Linked DNA regions of Homo sapiens. The protein of the gene in region 4 interacts with the protein of the main gene of each other region in a biochemical or structural test. Each region holds a gene or a part of one and is shown on either strand. Other genes may lie near its edges. The genes, in order: LRP4, ARHGEF26, FZD1, SIPA1L2, RSBN1, ABCA2 and TRIM29.

Evidence for each region.
Region 1: the proteins of SIPA1L2 (region 4) and LRP4 interact in a test that uses a peptide from one of them, tested with the Homo sapiens proteins (one large-scale study listed by IntAct).
Region 2: the proteins of SIPA1L2 (region 4) and ARHGEF26 interact in a test that uses a peptide from one of them, tested with the Homo sapiens proteins (one large-scale study listed by IntAct).
Region 3: the proteins of SIPA1L2 (region 4) and FZD1 interact in a test that uses a peptide from one of them, tested with the Homo sapiens proteins (one large-scale study listed by IntAct).
Region 5: the proteins of SIPA1L2 (region 4) and RSBN1 interact in a test that uses a peptide from one of them, tested with the Homo sapiens proteins (one large-scale study listed by IntAct).
Region 6: the proteins of SIPA1L2 (region 4) and ABCA2 interact in a test that uses a peptide from one of them, tested with the Homo sapiens proteins (one large-scale study listed by IntAct).
Region 7: the proteins of SIPA1L2 (region 4) and TRIM29 interact in a test that uses a peptide from one of them, tested with the Homo sapiens proteins (one large-scale study listed by IntAct).

What each region holds. Positions count from the first base shown.
Region 1 is NC_000011.10:46,908,551-46,912,050, reverse strand, and holds part of LRP4 (low-density lipoprotein receptor-related protein 4 precursor), read left to right. Parts: intron 1-3,500. UniProt on the Homo sapiens protein: Mediates SOST-dependent inhibition of bone formation. Functions as a specific facilitator of SOST-mediated inhibition of Wnt signaling.
Region 2 is NC_000003.12:154,253,890-154,257,389, forward strand, and holds part of ARHGEF26 (rho guanine nucleotide exchange factor 26), read left to right. Parts: exon of another isoform or gene 1-84; intron 85-830; coding exon 831-935; intron 936-1,441; coding exon 1,442-1,584; 3' UTR 1,585-3,500. UniProt on the Homo sapiens protein: Activates RhoG GTPase by promoting the exchange of GDP by GTP. Required for the formation of membrane ruffles during macropinocytosis. Required for the formation of cup-like structures during trans-endothelial migration of leukocytes.
Region 3 is NC_000007.14:91,263,248-91,267,232, forward strand, and holds the start of FZD1 (frizzled-1), read left to right. Parts: upstream 1-1,185; 5' UTR 1,186-1,633; coding exon 1,634-3,577; 3' UTR 3,578-3,985. UniProt on the Homo sapiens protein: Receptor for Wnt proteins. Activated by WNT3A, WNT3, WNT1 and to a lesser extent WNT2, but apparently not by WNT4, WNT5A, WNT5B, WNT6, WNT7A or WNT7B. Contradictory results showing activation by WNT7B have been described for mouse.
Region 4 is NC_000001.11:232,400,300-232,403,133, forward strand, and holds part of SIPA1L2 (signal-induced proliferation-associated 1-like protein 2), read right to left. Parts: intron 2,175-2,834; coding exon 2,093-2,174; intron 1-2,092.
Region 5 is NC_000001.11:113,774,477-113,777,976, reverse strand, and holds part of RSBN1 (lysine-specific demethylase 9), read left to right. Parts: exon of another isoform or gene 1-157; intron 158-168; coding exon 169-306; intron 307-624; coding exon 625-767; intron 768-3,500. UniProt on the Homo sapiens protein: Histone demethylase that specifically demethylates dimethylated 'Lys-20' of histone H4 (H4K20me2), thereby modulating chromosome architecture.
Region 6 is NC_000009.12:137,014,738-137,018,237, reverse strand, and holds part of ABCA2 (ATP-binding cassette sub-family A member 2), read left to right. Parts: coding exon 1-60; intron 61-162; coding exon 163-265; intron 266-336; coding exon 337-451; intron 452-545; coding exon 546-736; intron 737-891; coding exon 892-1,042; intron 1,043-1,113; coding exon 1,114-1,318; intron 1,319-1,499; coding exon 1,500-1,664; intron 1,665-1,766; coding exon 1,767-1,947; intron 1,948-2,063; coding exon 2,064-2,276; intron 2,277-2,366; coding exon 2,367-2,563; intron 2,564-2,641; coding exon 2,642-2,824; intron 2,825-3,140; coding exon 3,141-3,325; intron 3,326-3,427; coding exon 3,428-3,500. UniProt on the Homo sapiens protein: Probable lipid transporter that modulates cholesterol sequestration in the late endosome/lysosome by regulating the intracellular sphingolipid metabolism, in turn participates in cholesterol homeostasis.
Region 7 is NC_000011.10:120,121,114-120,124,613, reverse strand, and holds part of TRIM29 (tripartite motif-containing protein 29), read left to right. Parts: intron 1-1,558; coding exon 1,559-1,660; intron 1,661-3,500.

The DNA.
Region 1 (3,500 bases), on a different chromosome or scaffold from region 4:
GAAACCCCATGTCTACTAAAAATACAAAAATTAGCTGACGTGGTGGCACATGCCTATAGTCTCAGCTACTCAGGAGGCTGAGGCTGAGGCTGAGGTGGGAGAATCGCTTGAACCTGGGAGGCAGAGGTTGCAGCGAGCCAAGACTGTGCCACTGCACTCCAGGCTGAGCGACAGAGCGAGACTCCGTCTCAAAAAAAAAAAAAAAAAAAGAAGATTCCCATCTTACAGATGGGAAACAGGCTCAGAGCAGTTTCCTGTCATACAAATAGTGAGTAACTGAGCCAGGATTCCAGGCTATCCCAGAAGATCTAGGTTGGGAAGGTCTATATTTCATCTTGGATTGACCTCTCCTCTGTTTTCAGACATCTTCTCAGGGAGTCTGAATGCATAAGGAATTACTTCTCAGGTGCTTCTTGAGGGAGAGAGACTTTATTTTTATTTATTTATTTATTTTTTTTTTTTGAGACAGGTTCTCACTCTATTGCCAAGGCTGGAGTGCAGTGGCATGATCATAGCTCACTGTAGCCTCGAACTCATGGGCTCAGGAGAAGAGAGAGACTTTAAAAGGTTTCCAGAAAAATGTGGTTTGTTGCTCCCTGAACAGCCATAAACAAATGTGGTTTGTTACTGTGTGGACCTTCTGATTTGAGATGTAGGGGGAAGGGAAAGCAATATTTTGAGCAGCCCTTCACAGAGCACAGCCATGTTTGAGCCCTGTTGGATTTGTGAAATCTGTTGACAGCTTCCAGGTAGGGCAGGTAGAATTTTGAGGATCTATACAAAGATAGCCTGGCATTGGCTACATTACTAGGTTGAGAGAGAGGACATATCCAGATGAAGATAATGGGATTAGTACAAATAACAAGAAAAACAATAACAGCTGTCTAGTATGAACCTCATACGTATTATTTCATTTAGACCTCCCAGCAACCCTATGAAATAGATACTGTTATTACTCCTGATTTACAAAAGTGGAAGCTAATCCATTTCTTAATTGCTCTGTACTTTAGTTTCTGGATTCTCTCTCCTGTCCTTGGCTCCTCAGAATTAGTTGGTGATAAATTAGGCAAAGATTTGCTGGGTGTGGTGGCTCGTGCCTGTAATCCCAGTGCTTTGGGAGGCCGAGACAGGTGGATCACTTGAGGCCAGGAGTTTGAGACCAGCCTGGTCAATGTGGAGAAACCCTGTCTCTACTCTAAAAATACAAAAATTAGCCGGGTGTGGCGGTACACACCTGTAGTCTCAGCTACCTGGGAGGCTGAGGCAGGAGAATCGCTTGAACCCGGGAGATGGAAGTTGCAGTAAGCTGAGATTGTGCCAGTGCACTGCAGTGTGGGTGACAGAACAAGACTCCACCTCAAAAAAAAAAAGGGGGCAAGGATAAAGGATACCATGTGCCTCAAGCTCTTTCAGAGAAAGGCAATAAAGCAAGACTCTGCAGTTATTCATGCCACCAACTTAACCCATGGTGGTGGTACTGCTGCCTGGTACACAGTAGGGTTTTCAAACATCTCAAGTCCTAAAATAGCAGGTCTTAATCATGGAGTGGTTGGATGTGACAGTTCTGGGGTAAGCCAAATCTTTAATAGTAATAACAAGAGCTATTATTTATTGAGCACTTAGTATGTGCCAGGCAGTAATGCTAAGTCCTTCTTATGAATTAACTAATTTATTTCTCATAACATTCCTGTAAGTTAGGGGATTTTATTATCCCAATTTTCCTGATGAGAAAATTATATATAAAGAGGTTAAATAGCTGCCCAGGGTCAGACAGCTAGGAACTTAGCAGAGTCAGGATTTTTATCCTGGGGAGTTTTGTTCCTCCGTGCTTAACATTATGTTCTTCTGCCTCATAACTTTGGAGGCTAACCATTAAGGACTTCTTTTCTGTATGTAACAGTAGCAAGAGAGGGCTGAACTTGCTTGGACCCGCAATCATGTGCCCGACATGTCCCTTTCGAAACGGGCCACTGAGGAGAAGACTTCACCTGGTAGATTTTCCAAACCAACCAAGTTAAGCTGGCCTCTAGGAATCGGGAATAAAAGGGACCATGGGACAGAAATAAGTAGAAACATGGCGTGTCAGTTTCACAGCCGGATAATACAGCTGGTGAAAGGAACTCTTGTAGGAGAAAGGAGTAAACAAAACCTGGGTAGGACAAAGAGGCTGCCTTGCAAACGAGAAGATTCCTGTTCTCTCCAGCACTGGTTAGGTAGGAAATAACTACTTTTATTTATGATATTCTGAGTCTCTTTTCCTTTGACTCCAGCTTTCACAAGATTCTAGAGGAGTGTTTCATTCATTCATTCATTCATTCAACGAACTTGTATTTATTGCTGCCAGTGGATAAAAGGAGAGAGGCATATGCTAATATGCTTTAGCATATTATAAACGAATGGTGATTCCTCCTTTTTTTTTTTTTTTTTTTTTTTTTTTTTGAGACGGAGTCTCGCTCTGTCGCCCAGGCCGGACTGCGGACTGCAGTGGCGCAATCTCGGCTCACTGCAAGCTCCGCTTCCCGGGTTCACGCCATTCTCCTGCCTCAGCCTCCCGAGTAGCTGGGACTACAGGCGCCCGCTACCGCGCCCGGCTACTTTTTGTATTTTTAGTAGAGACGGGGTTTCACCTTGTTAGCCAGGATGGTCTCGATCTCCTGACCTCATGATCCACCCGCCTCGGCCTCCCAAAGTGCTGGGATTACAGGCGTGAGCCACCGCGCCCGGCCGATTCCTCCTTTTCTCATTGTAATCCTAATAGCTTCCACACTGGGGTAGCCACCAGACTCCAGAACACTCACAGGGTACTCCTTAAGCCTTCTCATCTCTGGTTCAGCTTGAAAAAGCTGGTCTGTAGCTGTGAGTAGTCACGGTCTACCCATGTGCCTCCATGTGACAGATGTGGTCCACCTTCAGCTGTGCATTCTATGGAATGGTGGAGAGCAGTGCCGCTAGACACTTGAGTGTGCATCGGTGTCACCCGGAAAGCTTACTGAAAGTCCAGACTCTGAGATCACACTAAGAGAAGAATACTAGTTTAAGTGTCAGAATGGGGCTGCCATCCTGGCTCTCCTACTTACCTTGTGACCTTGGCCAAAGCGGGTGCCCTTACCTGTTGGATGGGCCCTGCAGTCATTGCTCAGGATTATTGTAATGATTCAATGAGAATGCAAGTGCATATGCAAAAGTAGCTCACAAACTAAAGAGAAATTGCAAAGTATAATTATTTGTTATGGGAAGCCCTGTTCCCTGGACCAACAACACTCGAGTGCTGATTCAAAAGTGCTGGGACGCCAGACTTTCCCCACTTCATTACTTTACCTTCCGGCGAGGGAAATGAATCTTTCTTTACCTTAGCAGTAACCAGAAAGAGGTCACTGTTTGAGACCCATAAACTCACTGCATATTTGCTATTGGAGAACACATAAAAGAGAGGGACCCAGAAGTTGTAAATTCCCCCTTTTGACCTTGGGGTTTTGGAGATTCTCACAACAGTAATACCA
Region 2 (3,500 bases), on a different chromosome or scaffold from region 4:
GAAATCAAGCTTTGTATTAAAAAGCAAATTAAGAAGTCACATGTCAGCATTTTGTTTGTTTGTTTTGAGATGGAGTCTCGCTCTGGTGCTATCTCAGCTCACTGCAAGCTCCGTCTCCTGGGTTCATACCATTCTCCTGCCTCAGCCTCCCAAGTAGCTGAGACTACAGGCGCCCGCCACCATGCCCAGCTAATTTTTTGTATTTTTAGTAGAGACGGGGTTTCACCGTGTTAGCCAGGATGGTCCCAATCTCCTGACCTCGTGATCCGCCTGCCTCGGCCTCCCAAAGTGCTGGGATTACAGGCGTGAGCCACCGTGCCCGGCCACATGTCAGCATTTCTGAGGAGGTCTAACATGACTTCTCAGCTTTTGGTTGGAGCTCATTTTATTTCTAAACTTTTTTTTGGAAACTTTCATGTGCTGCTGTTGGGATGGGGAGACACTCTGATGAGAGCCAGGAGAACTGTGTCTGTTGCAGATTTTGCATGGCCTTGGCACATCAGCAACTCTTTCATGTCTCAGTTTCCCTAATGCAGAGTGGCTGTTTTCTGTTCCATTGTGTGACATGACTAATGACTCCTGATCAACCTGTTATTGAGGGGAATCATGCATCATAAAAGGCCTCTCAAATCTGAGCTTCTAAAATTCTAAAGCTTATAGCCAAGCAAGGGAGTTGCTAGAAAAGATGTTCTGCTTTTTATTAGAAGCCCAACTTGTTTCTCTCAATGCTGGCCCTGAATTGCAGAGAAAAATAAGTAAGTGTACATTATTGGATTGCACATGTTTTTTCTCTGCTACTGGAAACTTAGTATGTCCTCTTTTGGCCTCAGCACTGACCCAGGTGGAAATCGTTAGGTCATTTACTGCTAAGCAGCCAGATGAACTCTCCCTGCAGGTGGCTGACGTCGTCCTCATCTATCAACGTGTCAGCGATGGTGAGTGGGAGCGTTCTTATGGGACACTCGTGGTCCAGGATGCAGAGTGCTATAGACCCGAGGAGTGTCATTTTGTCATCATTGCCCATATTCCAAATCTTGACATGTTAATGTTTGAGATCACATATATGTACTGTCTTCTCATCTCTAAGGCTAAACCATGACGTTTTCTTTTTTCCCCAGTCCCTCAGTGACCCAGTTCTTATCTCTAAATATTCGTCCTTTCAAAAATAGCATTCTTCCTGCTATCCTTTACCCAAAGCATCTCCTTTCCCAGCTCAGCCCAGGTTCAAATACTCTCAGCCTTCTCACTTCAGGGCCTCTGCTCACGTTCTTTCCCTGCCATGTCATTCATTCCCCCTCGAAAGCTTTCCCTGTCCCACTTTCTCTTCTCACCGTAGCACTTAGCCTGGGGAGGGATGCTGCCTCTCAGCTTTTTCATATCCTTGGAGCCTGGCACACTCCAAATACTTGTTGTTTGGTGTGGACTCTGTTCTTTTTCACAGGCTGGTATGAGGGGGAACGACTACGAGATGGAGAAAGAGGCTGGTTTCCTATGGAATGTGCCAAGGAGATAACATGTCAAGCTACAATTGATAAGAATGTGGAGAGAATGGGACGCTTGCTAGGACTGGAGACCAACGTGTAGTCTCTCAGATGGTCTTTTGTTACTGCAAGATTTGCACGACACTTACCGGGCTGGTTGGTTCTGGGCTAGTTTTATTGTTAATTTTGTCACAGCCTATTTAATTAAAAGAACGAAAACACTTGCCTTTAAGCTTGCCAGGTTGTTCTGCTCTCTCATGAGAAGAGCTTGGATACAGTGAGTTTGCACAGCTCAGTTTTTACCTAACCACACACTTGCAGACCTCCTGAGGTACACAGAATAGCTGAGCAGTTCACTTCAGGGATCAGGTCATCTCTGCTCCTCCTAGTTTCACCATGTTCTGGCAATAAAAAACACATATTATATCCTGGTTTTCTCTATCCTTGCATTACTAAGGTGACTGTCTCTCTTTATACATCCTTGTATGGTTCTCCCAGTATTAGCAAGATTGTATATCTGTAAAGAATGTCCAGTTTTGTAAATATTTCCCTGCCTTTTTTTTTCTTTTTTTACATCTGATTTTAATGCTTCGTTAACTTCAAAAGGAACTGGTAGAGTTCAGAAGGTGAGCTGTTGTTTTTCTAAACCTCTTCCCAGGAAGGGGACATTGACACTTGAATTTTTGTCACCTTTTTCCTCATTAGAAGGAAAGTAGAAAGCCTTACTTTAGGATTTTTAAAAAAAAATCCATCTCACCCCATATTGTTCTTAAATAAGTATAGACTAATTAACCTAAGCTACCTTTAACAACGTAGAATTTAGATGGGTTCATATATGTGAGAAAAACCTGAATATAGGACAGGGGTCCTACTTTTTTCCCCACCTCTGTCGCCCAGGCTAGAGTATAGTGGTGTGATCTTGGCCCACTGCAACCTCTGCTTCCTAGGTTCAAGTGATTCTCCTGCCTCAGCCTCCCAAGTAGCTGGGATTGTAAGAGTATGCCACCACGCCCAGCTACTTTTTGTATTTTTAGTAGAGACAGGGTTTCATCATGTTGGCCAGGATGGTCTCTTAACTCCTGCCCTCAAGTGATCCACCAGAGAGGAGATCCTCGGCCTCCCCAAGTGCTGGGATTATAGGCATGAGCCACCGTGCCCAGCCTACTTTCTAATTAATTAAAAAAAAAAAAAAAAAAAAAAAAAAACCTTCCCAAATGAGCTGATAAAAAACTGACGTGAGGCTGCTTTGCCTTCAATAATACCTAGTTTTCAGCTGTTCCAACTCGTTTCCAAATAGAAATTAGCTGGAACACACTACAGTAATCTCAAGGAAGGGAAAATTAGGCCTTAAAAGATACCAAGAAGTCAGCATGGTACCCAATTGAAACCTTTTGACCTTAGTGGGAATTCATTCTATTTGCACTAAAAGCCTTAACTTGCTGTATTCAGAGTCCCTCTTAACTGTGAGTTTCTATAGAACTTTACTTTTTCCACTAGTGCACAGAGAGAGAAAGGTTATCTTAATAGTCGGTTTCATGGAGATGAAGGATGGGAGATTAAGAGGGGGGAAATGATTTTTACTGGCAGCTATATTCCCTCTCTGTTCTATTTGCTTTAACAAAGGGATAAAACCTGGCAAAGTGTACATTATTGGAGGACTCAAATCTGTATGTGACATGTCCCAACTACTGTCCGCTAACTAGTTATCCAAATTGTAAAGCTACAGAAGCCCAGTTGAGGGGTAAGTGTGCCTGGCTCACACAGCCTGCACCCTGTCACCTCGGCAATGAGCCAGTGTGGGGCACTGGGGACTTCTAACCCTTGGATTGCTCTTTTTGACCTGTGCATACCTTCTAATTGTAAAATATATTTCAGACCGTGAGTACCTTGAGATCTGAGCAACTGTGTTAATGAAGTAATAGCAATGGTCCACAGTGAAAGATGTGTTGGGGTTTGCAAAACAAGCATTCCGTCACCTCTTTAATAATGTCACAGACTTTTTAAAAGAGAGGCTATCAA
Region 3 (3,985 bases), on a different chromosome or scaffold from region 4:
TGGAAGAATTAATAGTCCAATGGCACTTTTCTTATAAAACTGAATTACATAGTCAAACCATCATTTAAAATAATCTTACAAGGAAAACAACATTAATGTGCGTCTGTTGAGACGGATTATGCTGTTTTGGAATTAGGAAGAGAATGTGCAGTTCGCTGTTTGCTTTCAGACTGTTTGTTTGTTTTGTTTATTAAACTGGCGTCTCCAGCTCTGCAGCCCAGCCTGTGGAACCTAAATGGCCCAGGTCCCAGGAGTTCCCATCGGAGCCGTGGGCGTCCCCAGGGTTTAGAAAGGCTCCCCAGGGGCCCAAGCTGCCGGCGAGTGCAGCTCCCGCCGGCGCCACCTCTGCGGTCTGGAGCGGCGAGGACGATCCCAGAGAGGCGCCCCCACTGCCTCGGTCGTCGGGTTCTTAAGTTTTTCTCTCCAAAAATTTAATGGATAGTTTTCTTTTGCTTCTGTTTCTGACTTGATTAAAGAGGCGGAAAAAAAGGAGTTTGACTCCAAGAAGAATGATAGTAGCAGAAGGCGCATCTGGCTTTACTTTCCAAATTCCATCAAAGTTTGTGTTTTGTTTCATTTGACAGCGATCCCGTGAACGTCTCCTCTGGGGAAATGGCGCGACCAAAGCCCGCCAAGCCCAGCCTGCGAACTGGAGGATTTATTAATGTAATATGTTAAACAAAACCTCGACAGACACAAACTCAAAGGAAACCGTGCGCTCCTTAAGTCAAAGGCATCTGTTCTGGAAGCAGAACCCGGTTTGCTGTTGGTAACCAGCGTTAAGAGCAGGATTTTTAAACATGATAATGGATAAAATAAAAGAAAAGCGAAGTCCCGCGGTCCTCTGACTCCTATTCATTATCTCCAGCAGCATATGGGACCATTCTCCTACGTATCCTCGCCTTTTTCTTCTGAAAAAGCAAAAGCAACCAAGCCTGTCCCGCTTCAGAGCAATCCTACTCTTTGTGCCTGAGTAGTGCCACCACCACTACTTCCTCCTCCTCCCGCCTCCTCCTACCCCGCCCTCCTGCCGCTGGCTTTCGCTCTGGCGAGGAGGCGGCCGGCTCCCTTTGCGCCGGGAAGCCGGAGCCGCGATTGGGCGACGGTCCCTGAGCCTCCAGTTCTGCGTCGGTTTCAAGGCTCCTCCCTCCTGGTGAAAGACAGACTACGGGGCGCCTGGAAACCGGTCCGAGGGCGCGCGAGGCAGAGGAGAGGGAGCGAGTTGAGGGATTGACACAAATGGTCAGGCGGCGGCGGCGGAGAAGGAGGCGGAGGCGCAGGGGGGAGCCGAGCCCGCTGGGCTGCGGAGAGTTGCGCTCTCTACGGGGCCGCGGCCACTAGCGCGGCGCCGCCAGCCGGGAGCCAGCGAGCCGAGGGCCAGGAAGGCGGGACACGACCCCGGCGCGCCCTAGCCACCCGGGTTCTCCCCGCCGCCCGCGCTTCATGAATCGCAAGTTTCCGCGGCGGCGGCGGCTGCGGTACGCAGAACAGGAGCCGGGGGAGCGGGCCGAAAGCGGCTTGGGCTCGACGGAGGGCACCCGCGCAGAGGTCTCCCTGGCCGCAGGGGGAGCCGCCGCCGGCCGTGCCCCTGGCAGCCCCAGCGGAGCGGCGCCAAGAGAGGAGCCGAGAAAGTATGGCTGAGGAGGAGGCGCCTAAGAAGTCCCGGGCCGCCGGCGGTGGCGCGAGCTGGGAACTTTGTGCCGGGGCGCTCTCGGCCCGGCTGGCGGAGGAGGGCAGCGGGGACGCCGGTGGCCGCCGCCGCCCGCCAGTTGACCCCCGGCGATTGGCGCGCCAGCTGCTGCTGCTGCTTTGGCTGCTGGAGGCTCCGCTGCTGCTGGGGGTCCGGGCCCAGGCGGCGGGCCAGGGGCCAGGCCAGGGGCCCGGGCCGGGGCAGCAACCGCCGCCGCCGCCTCAGCAGCAACAGAGCGGGCAGCAGTACAACGGCGAGCGGGGCATCTCCGTCCCGGACCACGGCTATTGCCAGCCCATCTCCATCCCGCTGTGCACGGACATCGCGTACAACCAGACCATCATGCCCAACCTGCTGGGCCACACGAACCAGGAGGACGCGGGCCTGGAGGTGCACCAGTTCTACCCTCTAGTGAAAGTGCAGTGTTCCGCTGAGCTCAAGTTCTTCCTGTGCTCCATGTACGCGCCCGTGTGCACCGTGCTAGAGCAGGCGCTGCCGCCCTGCCGCTCCCTGTGCGAGCGCGCGCGCCAGGGCTGCGAGGCGCTCATGAACAAGTTCGGCTTCCAGTGGCCAGACACGCTCAAGTGTGAGAAGTTCCCGGTGCACGGCGCCGGCGAGCTGTGCGTGGGCCAGAACACGTCCGACAAGGGCACCCCGACGCCCTCGCTGCTTCCAGAGTTCTGGACCAGCAACCCTCAGCACGGCGGCGGAGGGCACCGTGGCGGCTTCCCGGGGGGCGCCGGCGCGTCGGAGCGAGGCAAGTTCTCCTGCCCGCGCGCCCTCAAGGTGCCCTCCTACCTCAACTACCACTTCCTGGGGGAGAAGGACTGCGGCGCACCTTGTGAGCCGACCAAGGTGTATGGGCTCATGTACTTCGGGCCCGAGGAGCTGCGCTTCTCGCGCACCTGGATTGGCATTTGGTCAGTGCTGTGCTGCGCCTCCACGCTCTTCACGGTGCTTACGTACCTGGTGGACATGCGGCGCTTCAGCTACCCGGAGCGGCCCATCATCTTCTTGTCCGGCTGTTACACGGCCGTGGCCGTGGCCTACATCGCCGGCTTCCTCCTGGAAGACCGAGTGGTGTGTAATGACAAGTTCGCCGAGGACGGGGCACGCACTGTGGCGCAGGGCACCAAGAAGGAGGGCTGCACCATCCTCTTCATGATGCTCTACTTCTTCAGCATGGCCAGCTCCATCTGGTGGGTGATCCTGTCGCTCACCTGGTTCCTGGCGGCTGGCATGAAGTGGGGCCACGAGGCCATCGAAGCCAACTCACAGTATTTTCACCTGGCCGCCTGGGCTGTGCCGGCCATCAAGACCATCACCATCCTGGCGCTGGGCCAGGTGGACGGCGATGTGCTGAGCGGAGTGTGCTTCGTGGGGCTTAACAACGTGGACGCGCTGCGTGGCTTCGTGCTGGCGCCCCTCTTCGTGTACCTGTTTATCGGCACGTCCTTTCTGCTGGCCGGCTTTGTGTCGCTCTTCCGCATCCGCACCATCATGAAGCACGATGGCACCAAGACCGAGAAGCTGGAGAAGCTCATGGTGCGCATTGGCGTCTTCAGCGTGCTGTACACTGTGCCAGCCACCATCGTCATCGCCTGCTACTTCTACGAGCAGGCCTTCCGGGACCAGTGGGAACGCAGCTGGGTGGCCCAGAGCTGCAAGAGCTACGCTATCCCCTGCCCTCACCTCCAGGCGGGCGGAGGCGCCCCGCCGCACCCGCCCATGAGCCCGGACTTCACGGTCTTCATGATTAAGTACCTTATGACGCTGATCGTGGGCATCACGTCGGGCTTCTGGATCTGGTCCGGCAAGACCCTCAACTCCTGGAGGAAGTTCTACACGAGGCTCACCAACAGCAAACAAGGGGAGACTACAGTCTGAGACCCGGGGCTCAGCCCATGCCCAGGCCTCGGCCGGGGCGCAGCGATCCCCCAAAGCCAGCGCCGTGGAGTTCGTGCCAATCCTGACATCTCGAGGTTTCCTCACTAGACAACTCTCTTTCGCAGGCTCCTTTGAACAACTCAGCTCCTGCAAAAGCTTCCGTCCCTGAGGCAAAAGGACACGAGGGCCCGACTGCCAGAGGGAGGATGGACAGACCTCTTGCCCTCACACTCTGGTACCAGGACTGTTCGCTTTTATGATTGTAAATAGCCTGTGTAAGATTTTTGTAAGTATATTTGTATTTAAATGACGACCGATCACGCGTTTTTCTTTTTCAAAAGTTTTTAATTATTTAGGGCGGTTTAACCATTTGAGGCTTTTCCTTCTTGCCCTTTTCGGAGTATTGCA
Region 4 (2,834 bases):
CAGCACATCTCTGCTGCGACTCGGCTGCCCACCTCTCCACATCCCTGCAAACCTTTTATTGTGATCCATGAACTTGGATTCTGCCAAGAAGACCTTGTGCACGCTCAGTCTCTCCTGAAATTCCTTTCGTCTTCGTGCTCTAAGTGAATCCTGGCTCCCTCCCGAGGAGACCGTCCCCAGCAGCTCACTATGGGGGTCGGGCAGGCAGACAGTGCATCCTCTATTGTTCAGGCCAGATCTCCACTACTTCCTACAATTCCAGCTCCTCTAAAAAACGTGCCATTAGGTCATGAGACCTGCTACCCCTCCTGGCTGCAATTATCTACTGTATCCCCAGTTCCAACCATCATTACGGGAAGATTCTAGAACCTGGTTTGCTCTTTTCTCCCCATCCCACTCCTGTCATCTGTGTTGATGATTTCGAATCCACTGAGATATTCCATCTGACACTCTGGCCGTTCAGCCTCTCCATCGCTTTCTCTCAGTGATCTTCAAACCCCACCCTCCTCAACCCCCACTCCCATGACCACATCCTATACCATGCTATTGTCAATGACTGCACCTCTTCCTAAAAGTTTCAAGTTCCTACTTCTTGACCACCACCTCCAGTCTTTTAAAAATAATTTCTCCAGTATCCACTCCTCCAGTAATGATAGACTCCATCAATCTTATCAATCTTACTCTTATTTTCACTGTCCACCAACACCTCCAACCCAGCCATTCCCCAGCAGTGACATTATTTCTCTTCAACCAGCCTGGACTCCAGGTTCTTTGGTTTATTCATGCCCTGTACACGCCCCAGGGTCCTTGTCTCTCTCTCTCTCTCTCGTCTTGATTTCCCGTCTAAACTTTAATATTGGCTAAATTCAACTCTCCAACGGTTCTACACTTGCAGCTGGAGATAGGGTGACCAGCCATCCCAGCTTGCATGGGACTTTGCCGGTTCTAATATGGAAACTTCCACATCCTAGAAAACTTCTCCATCCCGGGCAAACTGGGACAGCTGGTCACCCAAGCTGGGGAAAAAACACACGACCAGGAAAACAGGTATCGCTTTAATTTATGCTCCAAATTCAAACGTGCTTTAGCTTTTTTTGGGCAAGTCTCCTAAACCCGGTTGGTTTACACGCTGTGGTGCACCCATATCCGCTATCCACAAAACTCTTATACTCCCACCACTCTTAGCTCATGACTAGAAAGAAAAGAAACAATCAGAGAAATTTGCCAACATCTCTGTCTGGACCCTGTGTATGTGAATGAACATGTGCATATATGAACACACACATGTGCACACATACTCTGCTCCACTCTGGTAACTATGTATGAGCTGTCCCTACTCCTATCCAAGGCCAGCTCCCTCCTTGTGACTAGATCAGAACTCCACCCACTTGCTCTTCACCCTCATCATAATTTCCCTCCCAACTGAATCCTTTCCTCAGCATTCTCACCAGCTACAATTTCTCCCTTCTTCATAAGCCAAACCAAACCAAACCATCACAACAAAAACCTTCCTGTGATGCCCTCCCGCTTGCTACCGCACCCCATTCCGTTTCCCTGGACAGCCAACTGGCTCTCCAGCACAGGGCTGATGGAACAGAGCTCAGCCAAGTATTTGTGGGATACAGAATTTAATTTCTTTTGAGGACAGACCATGTGCAGGTTGATGTGTACAGCAGAAGTTCTAAGGGCTGTGAAGCTGATTCAAGACAGAGGACAGGACTCATAGAGACCAGGCTTTCTGGCAGCAATGGACTCCTCTGAGGTCATCTCATACAGAGTTGGCGCAACTGATAACTCACTGAACTAAAAAATGCTGGCCCACCATGCTTCTACTACACACTGAAGATTTGCCACACCAAGGGCTCATCCTCATTTACTCATATCCATTGAGATCCCTGCATCCCACAAAATGAAATACATCAGCTGCAGGTCAGCAGATGGAGTGAGACCTCAGGAGCATCTGTTGGTATTTATCATTGGTTTTTGTGTAAGGCAGTTTTCTTTCCTGAGTCTTTTCAATTTATCTGTAGTAGTTATAAGGGGCTGATTTTATAAGAGAAACAGTTCTGATTATGCTCTTCCAATTGATTACCTTCCGAAGGTCGGTCTGGAGTTGTCGAAGAATTAATTCCAGCTGATTGACTTTCCCGGTCAGTGGTGATGGAGAACGCTCCCTAGCAAATAAGGATAGAATTAGAAAGATTCAAGAGAGTCAATCGAGCATTTTTGTTGGTCAAGTTTTCACTCGAAAAAATTATTTCATGTGCTTAGAGCCCAGCAAGCAGATATATTATATTATGTCAGAATGGGAAAGTGTCCATATTGCTGATCTAGTGGAAAGCCCATTCTGGGACTTTACTGATTTAAAAAGAGATGCAGAAACTCTATAGATATACGAGTTGGTAGGAAAACAAAAGATATATTATTTAAGTTGGTTTATCCAATGGAGACAAGGAAGACCCAAATGAAGTCCTGGGAACCAGTCAATTTCCCCAATTTGCCTTTCCCTATGATAACAATATTATGAAGCTCGTTACCAATGTGAACATGCAAGTTAATGAAGTTAATTCCAAGTTCTATATTCAGCTCACATAGAAGTTGGAATTAAGAATGGATGACAGAGGTAAAGAATACACATTTCACGGGGAATGAACATGTCATGAATATAGGGGAAAGAGTGGGGTGTTCCCAACATATTTCAGTGGAGGGCATGAGGCTGGATCAAGGACCAGGTTCTGGGAGGGGCCATGCCCTGGGCTGGTGAGCATGTGCAGCCTGGCAGGTGGAAGGCCAATCGGCGAGTTATCCCTGCATGGTGCTGTTGCAGTAATTCA
Region 5 (3,500 bases), about 120 Mb from region 4:
TATTTGTCAGTGTGCTTGGGTGCCTCTCTGACTTTATTCAAGGTATTGACCATTCAGTTCTTAGTTTGTAGAAGAAATGGCAACGTTGGAAACAATAACCTATTTTAATTCTTTAATTATATTATAGTTGTACCTCAGTCCATTTTTCCCTCTTTTGTTTTATCTTAGGTCAACAGGACATACTGCTGTGGCACCTACCGAGCAGGTCCTATGCGGCAGATAAGTCTCGTTGGAGCAGTAGATGAAGAAGTTGGTGATTATTTCCCAGAGTTCCTTGATATGTTAGAAGAATCACCATTTCTGAAAGTGAGTGTTAATTAAGATTATTAAAGTTTTGATCTTTACTTAAGTGGGCACTTTATATGTTGAAGAGTATTTAGCTAATATTGCCTATTGAAATTAAATTTATCCAGTGTTTTGCACAGAAATGTTTAGATAGAATAATATTAGTACAAAGTACTTAAATTCAATTATTCTTTTTAATATAAATTACTATGTAAATAGCATTTATTTCTTTATATACAGTTGTAAAAAAGCCTTCTTAGAACTTTTATTTGGGTGGGAGGATTAACTTATAAATCATTGAAACAATTTTTTAATGTGACTAATCCGTCTGATTTCTAGATGACTTTGCCCTGGGGTACACTTTCTAGCCTCCGACTCCAGTGTAGGTCCCAGAGTGATGATGGGCCTATAATGTGGGTAAGGCCAGGAGAACAGATGATCCCTACAGCAGATATGCCAAAGTCACCCTTCAAAAGACGACGGTAAATATTTCTTTTTCTCAAATAAGCAAAACTACTTTTTTTTAGTTGGTTGCTTATAAAAATGAGCACAGTTTGAAAACCATTTGTCTTGGGCTCCCTTAAGTAAATGTTTTAGTTGTCGGTTCCTCTTTTCAGTCCAATCATCACAGTTATCACAGTGAGGCATTTTTCTAAAACACAAATTTAATTTTTACTTATTTTTTAAAAACCTGTGCCCTAACTGCCTGCAGGATAAAAGATCAAACCCCTTAGTGTGGTTTACATTAATAATCAGGTCAACTGTACCTCTTCTAGATGTATCTGTGTTTAGTCTTCTCCGGCCATACCGAATTCACTTTCCAAACCATAGTCTATCATAACTCTTTGCTTTTGCACTATTTTTTTTTTTTTTTTTTTTTTGAGATAGGGTCTCACTCTGTTGCCCAGAGCTAGAGTGCAGTGGTACAATCATAGCTCACTGTATTCTTGAACTTCTGGTCTCAGGAGAGCCTCCCAAGTAACTGTGGCTATAGGTGTGTACCACCATGCCCATCTGATTAAAAAAATTGTTTTGTGTATTTTATTTTTGTAGAGATGGGGTCTCACCATATTGCCCAGGTTGGCTTTGAACTCCTGGCCTCAAATGATCCTCCTGCCTCAGCCTCCCAAAGTGCTGGGGTTACCGTCCCACAGCAAACTTAATACATTTTCAAAACTTAGCTTGAGCTGGGCACAGTGGCATATGCCTTTAGTCCTAGCTACCTGGTAGGCTGAAGTAGGAGGATCAGTTGAGCCCAGGACTCCACGACAAGATCCTGACTCAAACCCAAACCAAAACCAAACAAAACTTAACTTGGACGTCACCTCCTTTGTGAAGTTTTTCTTTCCTTCCTTAGGTAATTAATTGTTCCCTACAATGTTCTGTTCATTAAAGTTTTGTTTACATGTTTTTATTTTCTACTAACATTTGAGGTGTGCTTTGGGAAGACAGGGACTATTTTATTCATCTTTGTCCTCATGACATATACTAGGTAACCAGTATTTGCTACATGAAACCAATAATGTTCTATAGGACCGAGCCTCAGTAATTCATATTGTGCTAACATGTTTTGTGTTTCAGACTTTGAAGACAAATGTAGATTAACTCACTCTCTAGTACTTTGAAAAATCTAATTTAATGAGACTGAAAATGATCTATACCTGCTTAGACTACGAAAATAGCAATTCAAAATAAGTGCCCAGAAGTGAGTTTTAATGGACTAATCTAAACCTTAACTTAAGGCTCATAGGAGAATGATACTTGAGCTAAGTATGGAATAATCTTAGGTACTTGAAATGTATGAAAATACTTTGAAAACATTATGTACGATGCAGGGTGGTGGCATGGTAAAAACCCAGGAGTCATTTGAAAGTTCTGCACATTGCTAGATTATAGCAGTTTTTGTTGCAGGATGATGACGAATCTTGAAATCTTATTAAATTGTTAAATACTATATACATTTTTTGTTCTGTAATCTTTCCTCAAAAAATGACCATCATTTGTTTCCTGATTTTTATAAACTTAAGAAAAAAGTAATAGGAAAGAGTAAAAAGAGGGCAGGTGCAGTGGCTCACACCTGTAATCCCAGAACTTTGGGAGGCTGAGGCAGGCAGATTGCTTGAGTCCAGGAGTTCAAGACCAGCCTGGGCAACATGACAAAACCCTGTCTCTAGTAAAAATACAAAAATTAGTGTGGTGGCACGCTCCTGTAATCCTAGTTACTGAGGTGGTTGAGGCATGAGAATCGCTTGAACTCAGGAGGCCGAGGTCGCAGTGAGCTGAGATGGTGCTTCTGCACTCCAGCCTGGACGACAGAGTAAGACTCATCTCAAAAAGAAAAAAAAAAAGAAGAGTAGAAAGAAGGCAGGCTGGGCATGGTGGCTCACACCTGTAATCCCAGCACTTTGGGAGGCCAAGGCAGGCGGATCACCTGAGGTCAGGAGTTCGAGACCATCCTGGTCAACATGGTGAAACCCCATCTCTACTAAAAATACAAAAATTAGCTGGGCATGGTGGCAGCCGCCTGTTATCCCAGCTACTCGGGAGGCTGAGGCAGGAGAATTGCTTGAACCTGGGAGGCGAAGGTTGCAGTGAGCCGAGATTGTGCCACTCCACTCAAGCCTGGGGGACAAGAGCAAGACTTCATCTCCAAAAAAAAAAAAAAGGTAGCCACCATTTAGGCATATTAACCTTTCAAATTATATATAGCCATAAATAATCTTTTTACAAAATCCATTCTTTGTGTGATGTTTACTTTAAAACTTGGGAATTTTTACTGTATGGTTGTATCAAGATTTATTTAACCAATTCTTGGTTTTTGTTTTTGTTTTTTCTTTGAGACAGGGTCTTACTCTGTCACCTAGGCTGGAGTGCAGTGGCATGATCAGGGCTCACTGTAGCCCATCTCCCAGGCTCAAGTGATCCTCCCACCTCAGCCCCACCAAGTATCTGGGACTACAGGTGCCTGCCACCATGCCTGGCTAGTTGTTTTTTGTTGTTGTTGTTGTTGTTTTTGAGACAGAGTCTTGCTCTGTCACCCAGGCTGGAGTGCGGTGGTGCGATCTCGGCTCACTGCAAGCCCCTCCTCCCGGGTTCACACCATTCTCCTGCTTCAGCCTCCCAAGTAGCTGGGACTACAGCCTCCCGCTATGATGCCCGGCTAATTTTTTTTTTTATTTTTAGTAGAGATGGGGTTTCAACGTGTTAGCCAGGAT
Region 6 (3,500 bases), on a different chromosome or scaffold from region 4:
GGCCTGGGCCCAATACTGGCGGCCGCTTCTACTTCCTCTACGGCTTCGTCTGGATCCAGGGTGAGGAGCAGGCCCGGAAGACCGGCTGGAGGATTCATGGGGGAGGACAGGTGTGAGGACGAGAGGGCCTGCCCGGCACCTGATGGCTGCCCCCACCCACAGACATGATGGAGCGCGCCATCATCGACACTTTTGTGGGGCACGATGTGGTGGAGCCAGGCAGCTACGTGCAGATGTTCCCCTACCCCTGCTACACACGCGATGAGTGAGTGCTGGGCGCCCGGGGCTGGGGCTGGGGCTGGGGCTGAGTGGCGCCTGAGCGCGGCCTCCCCGCAGCTTCCTGTTTGTCATTGAGCACATGATGCCGCTGTGCATGGTGATCTCCTGGGTCTACTCCGTGGCCATGACCATCCAGCACATCGTGGCGGAGAAGGAGCACCGGCTCAAGGAGGTGCGCGGGCCGGGACTCTCCCTGGAGGCGCGGGCTGGCAGGGAGGGGCGGCGTCCTCCCCGGGGCCTGCCCCAAGCCCCTGGCCCACCCGCAGGTGATGAAGACCATGGGCCTGAACAACGCGGTGCACTGGGTGGCCTGGTTCATCACCGGCTTTGTGCAGCTGTCCATCTCCGTGACAGCACTCACCGCCATCCTGAAGTACGGCCAGGTGCTTATGCACAGCCACGTGGTCATCATCTGGCTCTTCCTGGCAGTCTACGCGGTGGCCACCATCATGTTCTGGTGAGCGCGGGCCATGGTAGGAGGGACCTGGGGCAGGCACTTGCCCAGCAAGCTCACCCCACATCCTCTCAGAGCCCCCTGGACCCTGGCACGGGCCTGCCCAGGAGGCCGGGCGTGCGGGTGGATGACGGTGCGCGTGGCCCCTGCCCACCCAGCTTCCTGGTGTCTGTGCTGTACTCCAAGGCCAAGCTGGCCTCGGCCTGCGGTGGCATCATCTACTTCCTGAGCTACGTGCCCTACATGTACGTGGCGATCCGAGAGGAGGTGGCGCATGATAAGATCACGGCCTTCGAGAAGTGCATCGCGGTGAGGGTCGCGGGCAGGCGGGCGGCTGGGGTGCCGGGCCACCCCACGTGCTGACACCACTGCCTTCTCAGTCCCTCATGTCCACGACGGCCTTTGGTCTGGGCTCTAAGTACTTCGCGCTGTATGAGGTGGCCGGCGTGGGCATCCAGTGGCACACCTTCAGCCAGTCCCCGGTGGAGGGGGACGACTTCAACTTGCTCCTGGCTGTCACCATGCTGATGGTGGACGCCGTGGTCTATGGCATCCTCACGTGGTACATTGAGGCTGTGCACCCAGGTACTGGCCAGCCCTTGGAGGGCAGGGGAGAGGCAGGGGTCCCCAGCCAGGGTTGGGGACCAGCAGTCTGTGTCCACTCCTGGATGCAGCACGGGTGGCTCCCTGGGTGGGCACGTGGCCCACGTGGTGGATGGTCACCCCAGGCCCTAGGTCAGCCTCCCCTCCCCTCCCCGACCCCCAGGCATGTACGGGCTGCCCCGGCCCTGGTACTTCCCACTGCAGAAGTCCTACTGGCTGGGCAGTGGGCGGACAGAAGCCTGGGAGTGGAGCTGGCCGTGGGCACGCACCCCCCGCCTCAGTGTCATGGAGGAGGACCAGGCCTGTGCCATGGAGAGCCGGCGCTTTGGTGAGGCTGGCATCAGAATGGTGGCTGGGGTGGGCGCTGGGTTCAGAGTCCTGGGTGGCCTTGGCGCCGCCCCCACCCTGCTGATCCACAGCCCTGGTGCAGAGGAGACCCGTGGCATGGAGGAGGAGCCCACCCACCTGCCTCTGGTTGTCTGCGTGGACAAACTCACCAAGGTCTACAAGGACGACAAGAAGCTGGCCCTGAACAAGCTGAGCCTGAACCTCTACGAGAACCAGGTGGTCTCCTTCTTGGGCCACAACGGGGCGGGCAAGACCACCACCATGTGAGTGTCGGAGGGGCAGGGCGGTGGGCATCTGCTGACCAGAGCAGGAGTCCTAGTCAGGGCAGGGTGGGGCCCCTGCAGAGGGCGTGGGGTCATGACCCCGCCCACCTACCCAGGTCCATCCTGACCGGCCTGTTCCCTCCAACGTCGGGTTCCGCCACCATCTACGGGCACGACATCCGCACGGAGATGGATGAGATCCGCAAGAACCTGGGCATGTGCCCGCAGCACAATGTGCTCTTTGACCGGCTCACGGTGGAGGAACACCTCTGGTTCTACTCACGGCTCAAGAGCATGGCTCAGGAGGAGATCCGCAGAGAGATGGACAAGTGGGTGGGCTGGGCGGGGGGCGGGGCAGGTGGGCGGAGGCCCTGGGGCTCTGCATAGCAGCAGCCCCATGCCCCACCTCCCTGTCCCAGGATGATCGAGGACCTGGAGCTCTCCAACAAACGGCACTCACTGGTGCAGACATTGTCGGGTGGCATGAAGCGCAAGCTGTCCGTGGCCATCGCCTTCGTGGGCGGCTCTCGCGCCATCATCCTGGACGAGCCCACGGCGGGCGTGGACCCCTACGCGCGCCGCGCCATCTGGGACCTCATCCTGAAGTACAAGCCAGGTGAGTGGGGTGCCGTGTGGGCAGGGGTGCGGGCGGCGCCTCCCCTGCCCCCTGACCCTGGGTCTGGCCTTGTCCTAGGCCGCACCATCCTTCTGTCCACCCACCACATGGATGAGGCTGACCTGCTTGGGGACCGCATTGCCATCATCTCCCATGGGAAGCTCAAGTGCTGCGGCTCCCCGCTCTTCCTCAAGGGCACCTATGGCGACGGGTACCGCCTCACGCTGGTCAAGCGGCCCGCCGAGCCGGGGGGCCCCCAAGGTCTGTGTTGAAGCTGCCTGAGCTGGCTTCGGGCCACCTTCTCCCCGGGACCCCCACCTGAGAATCCACAATGGAGAGGCTGGGCCCTCACCGTCACCCGCTGGGCCCAGGATGCCTGCTGGGGCCTGGCCCGCCCTCTGCAACGCCCGTATCTTGGAGAGGCTGGGTCCTCAGCGTCACCCCCTGGGCCCAGGATACCTGCTGGGGCCTGGTTCTTCCTCTCCAATGCCCATATCTTGACCCAGTTGGGTTCCCATTGGGGGTCCCTCCTCCCAGCCCCTGAGTGAATTCCTTCCTGCTCCCACGTCCCCCACAGAGCCAGGGCTGGCATCCAGCCCCCCAGGTCGGGCCCCGCTGAGCAGCTGCTCCGAGCTCCAGGTGTCCCAGTTCATCCGCAAGCATGTGGCCTCCTGCCTGCTGGTCTCAGACACAAGCACGGAGCTCTCCTACATCCTGCCCAGCGAGGCCGCCAAGAAGGGGGCTTTCGAGCGCCTCTTCCAGGTGTGAGGGCGCACGGGTCGGGGGGCAGTTGCAGGTGGTGGAGGTGGGCGCACTCCTGCCTGGGCGTCCCTGCCGCAGCCTCCCCCTCCACCGCCCCTGCAGCACCTGGAGCGCAGCCTGGATGCACTGCACCTCAGCAGCTTCGGGCTGATGGACACGACCCTGGAGGAAGTGT
Region 7 (3,500 bases), on a different chromosome or scaffold from region 4:
AATGATTGAGTGCTCGCTCGATGCCGGGCATTTCACTGAGCTTCTCACGCACATTACCTTATTTTCCCTGTGGGGTGTACTGCATTTTACAGGCGAGAAGGCTGAGGCTCAGAGAAGCATCCTTTCAAAGGGCGCACTGCTCGGTAGGGGGTACGGCGGGGTTGAACACTCTGCTGTTCAGTCTCCCATGCCCTCTCATCTGAGAAGCTGCGGCTGGCGGTGGCTGCAGAAGTGGGGTTGAGGAGTGTGATAATCATCGTCCCTGGGGTACAAACTCGGCAGGGCAGCCCCTCCGGTGAGGTCCGGCCAGGCCTGGGGGATGGCCTAGACTGGGGTGGGGTGAGCCTTGCAGAAACTGTTCAGGCTCCTGGCCGCTCACTGTCCCATTTCTAGGTCACAATGCTGGCCACGGCCTCTGTACAGGTGTGGCCCTGCGTCCTGTACGAGGTGTGTGGCGAGGTGGCAAGCAGGAGCAGGGATGGGCACTGCTGATTCAGTAGCCCACACCTGTGCCTGGGGCCGTGGGGGCGGCTCCTCTGCCTCTGTGTTGTTTTTTCGTGTGGCTGCTGGGAGTGTGTCTGCTCTAGGAGGTGGTGGCCGGTGAGTCAGACAGTGGAGTGACCATCCACTCCTCCCCGATGCTAGCCTGCCCACCAGACCAGGGACTCGTCCACACCCTCAAAGGCCCCTGCGCTAAGAGACACCAGGCCACTTCATCCTGGACTCTGTGGGGCACAGGGCTGGGCTAACACCTAGGAGGGCATTTGTTTATTCTTTGAGTATCTGCTGTGCACCAGGACACTGATAGGCGCAGGTGATGAAGATGAAGAATGAGGGTCTCAGGCACATTTCTCCTCTTGCTCAGGAGAGAGAGAGGGAAGGACAGGGAAAGTAGAAGACGGGGAAGTCGAAAGAGAAAGGAATGGGGTGGAGGTGGCTGAGGGAAGTCAAGTGTCGAGCAGCAGATCTGTTTGAGTTAGGGGGTCTGCAGTTGAGTGGCCCCTGCCATAGCAGCTCACTCCACTGCCTGGATCCCTGGGCCATGGAGGCCAACACTGGGACCTCATCCCCTCACCTTAGGCTGCCAGCAGTGGCTGGGACTGAACCCGGAAGTAGCGAGCCAGAGCTCAATCCCCAACTCTGCCCTTATCGGCATGTGACATTGGGCAAGCTGCTTCTCTTACTTCCTGAGTCTCAATTTCCTTATCTGTCTCAGGGGGATACAACCACAATTGATGTATGGATCAAATAAGAAATGGGCATTAATAGCACCTTGTAAAGGTGAAGTGCTAGGAAGTGTTGTGCACACAATCGTATTTACAAGGGCTTAGTTCAAGAGGGTGGATGGCTCTTTGCAGACACCTTCTCCACCAAGAGCTCAGGAACCGAGTGAATGCTGGGCAGGGCGTCATATTCTCTGAGAGGTTGGGGAAACTTGGATCTGCCTGGGAGATAGGGGAAGGGCTATGGGGTGACTCATCTGAGCCCCAAAAGTCCCCAGTGGCTGGCTCCTCCTTCCCACCTGGCTCCTCTGCTGACCCGACCCTCTGCTTCCTAGGTGGTGACCATCGCTATGTGAACAACTACACGAACAGCTTCGGGGGTGAGTGGAGTGCACCGGACACCATGAAGAGATACTCCATGTACCTGACACCCAAAGGTAAGAGGGAGCCCCTCACCCCAGACCTAGTGTCTCTCCTGCTGCCCAGGGGCCCCCAAAGTCCGTGCAGTGACTCTCAGCCAGGTTCCTTCTGAGTGGGGGTGATGGCATGTCCAGTTTGCCTGGGAAAGTCCTGGCATCTACGTGTTGTCCTGATGTGATGATGAACAGGTCTGTGTTAGCTCTCAGAAGTGTCCTGGTTCGAATGAGAAGTTACCTGGTGCCAGCTCCTCAGAGGCATTCCTCCCGGGCCACACAGGCAGCACCTCTTTGCCCTCCTTGCCTTCTCACTTCCAGCCCACACCTCTGCTTCTCTTTCCTTCCGGAGGTCTCCTGGGCTCCCTTCTGCCAGGCCGGTGCTGTGTTTTGCTTTGGCTCAGGTTTTGTAGGGGCTGAGCCCTGTGAGATGGCTGCCGACCCCAGGACCATTCTGCTCCCCTAGGCAGGGAGAGTGGTCCCTCCTCTTCTGAGTTTCCTGGCTCTGCACCCTGGCCCCCTTGGCCCTCCCTCTCAGGCCCTGGACAGTCCCAGCCTGCAAGGTGCCGGCCTAGCACAGACCAGTGCCTGCCTGTCCTTGCCCTGTGGTGGCCTCTCACATTCTTGGGCGCCAGCAACAAACCACAGCAATACCCGTTACATAAGGGTGGGTGTGCCAGCCCTCGGACCATGAGGGTGTGTGCCTGTGCATGTGGGAGAGGGAGGCTGGGGGAGGAGGGAGGCCTGGGTAAGGCACAGGGGCTGGGGAGGGGGAAGCCTCCGGGAGCTAATCAGTAATTCACACACGTCTTTCACACACACACACACACACACACACACACACACTCACACACACAATGGGAGAGGCTTGGGGGATTTGGAGAGATGAGCTCAACAGAAAAGCACCTGTGCCGCCCCACCCAGTTTGAAAACAACCCCTGGGCTTCTTGGTTGTTGGGCTTTCCCTCCTCTGACATTCCTGGTGTGGGCCAGGCCCCAGCCGGCCAGCCTGCCTCCTCCCTGCCTGGGGTGCTGTGCCTTTGGGCAAGTTCTGGGAGTGCCGGCCCCAGCACCCCTCTCCTCAGAACCCCTACCTGGCCTCGCCCTGGCCCTGTCCCTCCTGTCTCTCCCTTCCATCCATGGACCAGGCCCTGGGGTGCCATCGAGTGCCCTGACAGGCTCCTGCGGGTCTCTCCTGCTCTGTAGGAGACTGAGGGCCCAGTGTGAGCCTCCTGCAGGTTGTGGGAGGGGGTGGAGGGAACAGCAGCACCCACTATGATGCCACCCCGAGGGCCTAGGGCCTGGGGCATCTTGGGCAGGCCTCAGTACCTGTATCTGAAGAGAGGGGAGGTTGTGCTCACATGCTGGGAGACTTCCCAGCTCTGCACTGTGAGTCAGTCTATGATGTCTGTGATGGAAGAAACAGGTTCCCCCGGCATCCCTGCCCAAGCACTGTGGGTAGCCTGTGCCGAGGACAGGAGGGACAGGAAATCTGCCCTCTGGGAGCTCCCAGGCTCAGGGTGGAGTTGGGGGGAGAACAGGAAGCAATCACCAAGGAGATGAAAGAAACAAGGCCCCTAAAGGGACTGGGTCCTGAGTCTGGGAGCTTTGAGGTCAGTGGGATTGACAGTGGCTGTGACTCCTTCCCTGGAGGGGTGAATTTCCAGGAACCTGTGCTCAGTAGAGGGAGCATGACTGCGAAGGGCAGAGGGCATCAGGGAACACAGGCACAAAGGCTTACAGGAAGGACTGGCAGGGCCGGAAATGGGGGTGTGGTGTCATCTGAGGGTCAGGTGGGGAAGGACAGAGGTAACAGAGGGCTAGAATACACATGGGGAGCTCATTGTTTTCAGCTGGGTATCGG